Regions from separate parts of the Homo sapiens genome. Here region 2 is linked to region 1. Evidence: fine-mapped expression QTL. A gene starts in region 1. The other region holds a variant in brackets. All regions are shown on one strand. Distances are between the middles of the regions. Region 1 holds the start of NTSR1 (neurotensin receptor 1). Region 2 overlaps NTSR1 (neurotensin receptor 1).

Evidence for each region.
Region 2: its variant is fine-mapped to the expression of NTSR1 in monocytes after R848 (Quach 2016, PIP 0.95). The same link has a PIP of 0.9 or more in monocytes and monocytes after Pam3CSK4.

What each region holds. Positions count from the first base shown.
Region 1 is chr20:62,707,283-62,710,182 of GRCh38, forward strand. It overlaps NTSR1 (neurotensin receptor 1), which reads left to right and starts at 1,554. Exons shown (of 4, transcript NM_002531.3): 1 at 1,554-2,639. The coding sequence starts at 1,926. RefSeq lists enhancers at 518-1,031, 1,032-1,544, 1,754-2,300, 2,301-2,845.
Region 2 is chr20:62,730,310-62,733,209 of GRCh38, forward strand. The region is part of intron 1 of NTSR1 (neurotensin receptor 1); the gene reads left to right. NTSR1-AS1 (NTSR1 antisense RNA 1) reads right to left here. Exons shown (of 2, transcript NR_199009.1): 2 at 1-2,873. Among named protein-coding and RNA genes, the nearest start is that of NTSR1-AS1, 3.6 kb to the right of the region's middle. The variant C/CAA (reference allele first, on the strand shown) is at 1,810.

The sequences.
Region 1 (2,900 bases):
ACGAATAATCACAGAGTCCCGCTGCCAGCCACCGGCTCAGAAGCCTTGAATTCTCCTAGCTGGGCGGGCCCGGGAGGGGGTTCCTCAGCCTCCCGCTTCCCTCAACACCCTGCGACCCCCGCCCCAGCCTGCCCAGGTTTCCTGCTCCCAGCACAGCAGGTGCAGCCAGCCATGTGCACAAAGGCCAGGCTGGTTCCCTGGGCTGCACTCGAGCAGCTCCTCCCAGCCCTGCACACATGGGGCAGCAGCTCTACCCAACCTCTCCCAGGGGTTCTGGGGAGGAGGGAGCAGGGGAGGGGGCGGGGAGGGCCCAGAGAAGGGACAGTAGTGCCCTGGGGGCCCCTGGGCAACCCAGACATGGAGGGGGGGGCAAGCTTGTGCCTGGCCACCTATGCCAGTGCCACCAGGTGCTGGGGGGGACACGGAAAGGACAGGAATCTTGCCCTCACCTGGCTCCCGAGCCAGGGGCCGGGGCACCCTGTGAGGACACTCAGAGGGAGGGAGTGTGCAAAGCCTGCAGGGCCTGGGAGGATGCGTGCTGGGGCTGCCTCTCCCAAATCCTGCTGGGGCGCAGGCTCTCAGGGTGGCTTCTGATGACAAATCCAGGCAGTAATAAGGGGCCCAGGGCATCACATCCCATAGCGTCATGAGACCAGCCCAGGGTGCCAGATGCAGGGCCCTGAGTGGGGAGGGTGCTGCTCTGGGCACCTGCTTTCTGCCCTCCCTCATTCACCCCTCCCCAGACTTTGATGAAACCATCTGTGGCTCCCGGCCTCTGCAGGACCCAGCCCCTCAGCTCCTCAGCCCCTGCAGGTGTCCCTCGGTACTGCCTCACGCCATCCTGCCCCAGGTGATAACTATGCCCTGAGCCCCCACCATTTCCACTGGGCACATCCCAGAAATACGCATTCACAGACCAGGCACGCCCATGACTGCGGCCAGATTTTAAAAGGAATCACCAGAAATGTAATCTCCAGTGGTCCTAGAGCCCCCTGGGCACCCAGCTTCTGGCACCCTGTGGACACCCAGGAGTGGGGGTCGGCCCAACCAGCTGCGCAGCCGCCCAGCCCTGCCAGCGGGGAGCTTCCTCCCTCCCTGCCCTCCGGATACACCCTCACCCCAACTGAGCGAGCCCAGGGTTGGGGGAGGTGCATAGTTCCCTTCCTAGCCGGTGCGAGAAATTGCGGAGAACAGGGAAGAGGGTGGCAGGAAGGGTCTGGTGCACGATACCCGCCGCGCCCGCTCGGAATCCTGGTTCCCTGGAGCGCTCACCCCAGCCCGCCCTGCCCCGGGGAGCGCGAGGGGGCGACCCGCCAGGCTGCACCCGGGCGGGGCGGGGATGGCGGCGGGGGCTGCCTCCCTCCTCCGCCGCCACCCCCCACTGCTGGGCGCGCCGCGCGGCCGCCGGCTCCGTGGAGACGCGCAGAGCCGGGAGGGCGCGGGCGCGGCGGGAGGTGTGCGGGGCTGGGGTGCGCGGAGAGCGCGAGGGAGGAGATTCTGAGCGAGGGAGGGGAGCGCGCCCGGGCAGCAGTGCGTGCGCTCCTCCCGGCGCCACAAGCTCGCCCCGCGCAGCCCGAGCCGGGCTGGGCGCTGTCCTCGGGGGCCTGGGGAACCGCGCGGTTTGGAGATCGGAGGCACCTGGAACCCGTGGCAAGCGCCGAGCCGGGAGACAGCCCGAGGAACCACGGGTTCTGGAGCTAGGAGCCGGAAGCTGGGAGTCCGGAGGAGAGCGGAGCCCGGAGCCCGGAGCCCGGGGCGGCGCGTCTGGGTCTGGCGCTTCCCGACTGGACGGCGCGCCCGCTGGTCTTCGCCACGCGCCCTCCCCTGGGCTCCCGTTCATCGGTCCCCGCCTGAGACGCGCCCACTCCTGCCCGGACTTCCAGCCCCGGAGGCGCCGGACAGAGCCGCGGACTCCAGCGCCCACCATGCGCCTCAACAGCTCCGCGCCGGGAACCCCGGGCACGCCGGCCGCCGACCCCTTCCAGCGGGCGCAGGCCGGACTGGAGGAGGCGCTGCTGGCCCCGGGCTTCGGCAACGCTTCGGGCAACGCGTCGGAGCGCGTCCTGGCGGCACCCAGCAGCGAGCTGGACGTGAACACCGACATCTACTCCAAGGTGCTGGTGACCGCCGTGTACCTGGCGCTCTTCGTGGTGGGCACGGTGGGCAACACGGTGACGGCGTTCACGCTGGCGCGGAAGAAGTCGCTGCAGAGCCTGCAGAGCACGGTGCATTACCACCTGGGCAGCCTGGCGCTGTCCGACCTGCTCACCCTGCTGCTGGCCATGCCCGTGGAGCTGTACAACTTCATCTGGGTGCACCACCCCTGGGCCTTCGGCGACGCCGGCTGCCGCGGCTACTACTTCCTGCGCGACGCCTGCACCTACGCCACGGCCCTCAACGTGGCCAGCCTGAGTGTGGAGCGCTACCTGGCCATCTGCCACCCCTTCAAGGCCAAGACCCTCATGTCCCGAAGCCGCACCAAGAAGTTCATCAGCGCCATCTGGCTCGCCTCGGCCCTGCTGGCGGTGCCTATGCTGTTCACCATGGGCGAGCAGAACCGCAGCGCCGACGGCCAGCACGCCGGCGGCCTGGTGTGCACCCCCACCATCCACACTGCCACCGTCAAGGTCGTCATACAGGTGAGCCTCAGTAACCAGCCCCGGGGCTCCCCTCTCCTTCACCCCAAAAGCAGTGCCAGTGGTGTGCCTTCTGGGTAGGGAGTGGGAGAGATGTCACAGAGACAGTCTACTCCTGCGAGGCTGGGAAGGCGGTTGGGGCAGCTTGGGGGCAGCTCCAGAGTTGCCAGGCTCAGCCCCTATCTTCTTCCCTCCTGTTGAGGGGATGGAGCCCCTGCCTGTGACCTCTCTGGTGTTGGTGGCTGGGCCTCGGACATCTCTGAA
Region 2 (2,900 bases), 23 kb after region 1:
TTTGTCTTACCCAGAACGTCACACAGCTGGGATTATACCGTATGCAGCCTTTTCAGACCAGCTTCTTTCCCTTCGCAGTATGTAGTTGAGGTTTCTCCCTGTCTTTTCATGGCTTGATAGCTTGTTCTTTTTACGGCTGAATAATATTCCATTATCTGGATGTCCCCCAGCTTGTTTATTCACTCAGCTATTGATGGACATCTTGGTTTTTGGCATTTATGAAGAAGGCTGCTATAAACATACATGTGCAGGTTTCTGTGTGGCTTTCACCCCTTTGGGAGTAGAAATGCCAAGGAGGGCGATCGTTGGAACACGTGGTAAGGATACGTTGAGCTTTGTAGGAAGTTGCCAAAGTGCCTTCCAGCACGGCTGCGCCATTTTGAATTCCCAGCAGCCACGGGTGAGGGCGGTTCTGTTGCTCCGCAGCCTTGCCAGCGTTTGGTGTCGTCAGGATCTTGGTTTTGGTTTTTGTAGCCATTCTCATTTGATCTCATTGTTTTAATCGACATTTCTCTAATGACATATGATGTGGAGCATTTTTCTTGTGCTTATTTTTCCATTGCTACGTCTTCTTTGATGAGGTGTCTATTCAGATGTTTTGCCCATTTCTTCATGTTTGTTTCCTTATTGTTGAGTTGTAAAAGTTCTTTATATATTTTGGATAACACTCCTTTATCAAGTATTTTGCAAATATTTTTTCCTAGGCTGTATCTTGTCTTCTCATTCGTTTAACAGTGTCATTTTTAGAGCGTTTTTGTTTTGTTTTGTTTTTGTTTTTTCTTTTTTGTTTTTGAGACGGAGTTTCGCTCTTGTTGCCCAGGCTGGAGTGTAATGGCACAATCTCGGCTCACCACAACCTCCGCCTCCCGGGTTCAAGTGATTCTCCTGCCTCAGCCTCCCGAGTAGCTGGGATTACAGGCGTGCACCACCATGCCCAGCTAATTTTGTATTTTTAGTAGAGATGGGGTTTCTCCATGTTGGTCAGGCTGGTCTTGAACTCCTGACCTCAGGTGATCCACCCGCCTTGGCCTCCAAAAGTGCTGGGATTACAAGTGTGAGCCACCACGCCCAGCCGTGTAATTTCTTAATTTTAATGAAGTCCAGCTTATTCATTTTTTTTGTGGATTATGCTTTTGATGTTGCATCTAAAAACTCATTGCCAAACCCAAGATACCTAGATTTTATACCCAAGATACCTAGATTTTATTACCTAGAAATTTTATTATCTTGTATTTTATATTAAATAAAATGTGTTATTATCTATAAATTGTATTATCTTGCATTTTATATTAAGGTCTGTGAGGCCTTTTGAGTTAATTATCCTGAAAGGTATAAGACCCATTTTTTTCTACATGTGGATGTCAGTTGTTCCAGCACCATCTGTTGAAAGACAGTCTTTTCAACATCAATAACTTTTGCTTCTTTCTCAAAGATCATTTGCCCATGCATGTGTCCGTCCACTTCTGGGCTCTCTTTTCTGTTCCATTGGAATATTTGTCTGTTCTTTAGCCACGATTACACTTTACTGGCTGGGTGTGGTGGCTCACGCCTGTAATCCCAGCACTTTGGGAGGCCGAGGCGGGTGGATCACTTGAGGTCAGGAGTTCGAGGCCAGTCTGGCCAATATAGTGAAACCCCCATCTCTACTAAAAATACAAAAATTAGCCAGGTATGGTGGCAGGTGCCTGAAATCCCAAGTACTCAAGAGGCTGAGGCAGGAGAATCACTTGAACCCAGGAGGCAGAGGCTGCAGTGAGCCAAGATTGTGTCACCATACTCCAGCCTGGGCGACAGAGTGAGACTCCATTT[C/CAA]AAAAAAAAAAAAAAAATTACACTGTACCGATAACTGGGGCTTTATAGCAAGTGTTGAAATCGGTAGTGTCCATCCTGTGAACTCACAGTATGACGTTAAATAGGAGTGAGGATAGGGGGCCTCCCTGCCTCCTTCCCTATCTTAGGAAGAAAAGCTTCAGGTTTGTCACCATTGAGTATGACATGGGCTGTAGGTTTTTAGTAGATGTTCTCTACCAAGCTGAGGGAGTTCCCTTGTATTCCTGGCTTGTGAAAGGTTTTTCTCACAGATGGGTGTTGGGTTTTGGAAAATAGTTCCTGTTGCCATGATGGATTTCGATAATCTGTTTCCGAACCCTGGAGCAGCCTCGCATGCCTGGAATAAATCCTGTGCTGTCTAATTCTTACCATGTAGCGCTGCATGAGATTCGCTGCTATTTGTGTAATTCTTAGTATGTGGTGCTGGTTGGGAAATCCTGTGGTGTATAATTCTTAGTATGTGATGCTGGATTTGCTGCTGTTTTGTTGAGGGTTTTTGCATCTGTGTTCATGAGACATCCTGGTCTGCGTTTTCCTTTCTTGTAACATCCTCGGTTTTGTTATTGGGGTAATGCCGGCCTCGTAGAGTGAGTTATAAAGTGTTCCTCTGCTTCTATTTCCTGGAAGAGACTGTAGAGAGTATCTATCATCTGTTCCTTAAATGCAAGGTAGAATTCTAAGTCCGTGTCCCTGCGTGGCTCCAGGCACGCTGGTTCCCCATCTGACCCTCCGCTTGCTTTTCCTCGGGCTCTCCCTGCCTGGGCCTGGAGGACCACAGCGGGCACAGGGGGCGGCTCAGGCTGAGAACCAACGGCGCTGACGTCGCCTAAAGGGGGTTCCCAGCTGGCAGCCTCCAGGTGCTGGAATGTTTCTCGGTGAGAAGCCGCCACGGGAGTCTGTGGACTTGTCACATCACCCGCAGGCGTGGCCCTGAGGCCACGTATCCAAGCAGCAGTGCCGTGCATATTCATGTCGGCATTGGACTTGCAAATTCTGAGTGAAGTAAATGTCATCGGCAGTGTGTAGACGTTCTTTCGGAAGAAGATCTGTCAGAGAAAATGCAAGCTGATTAC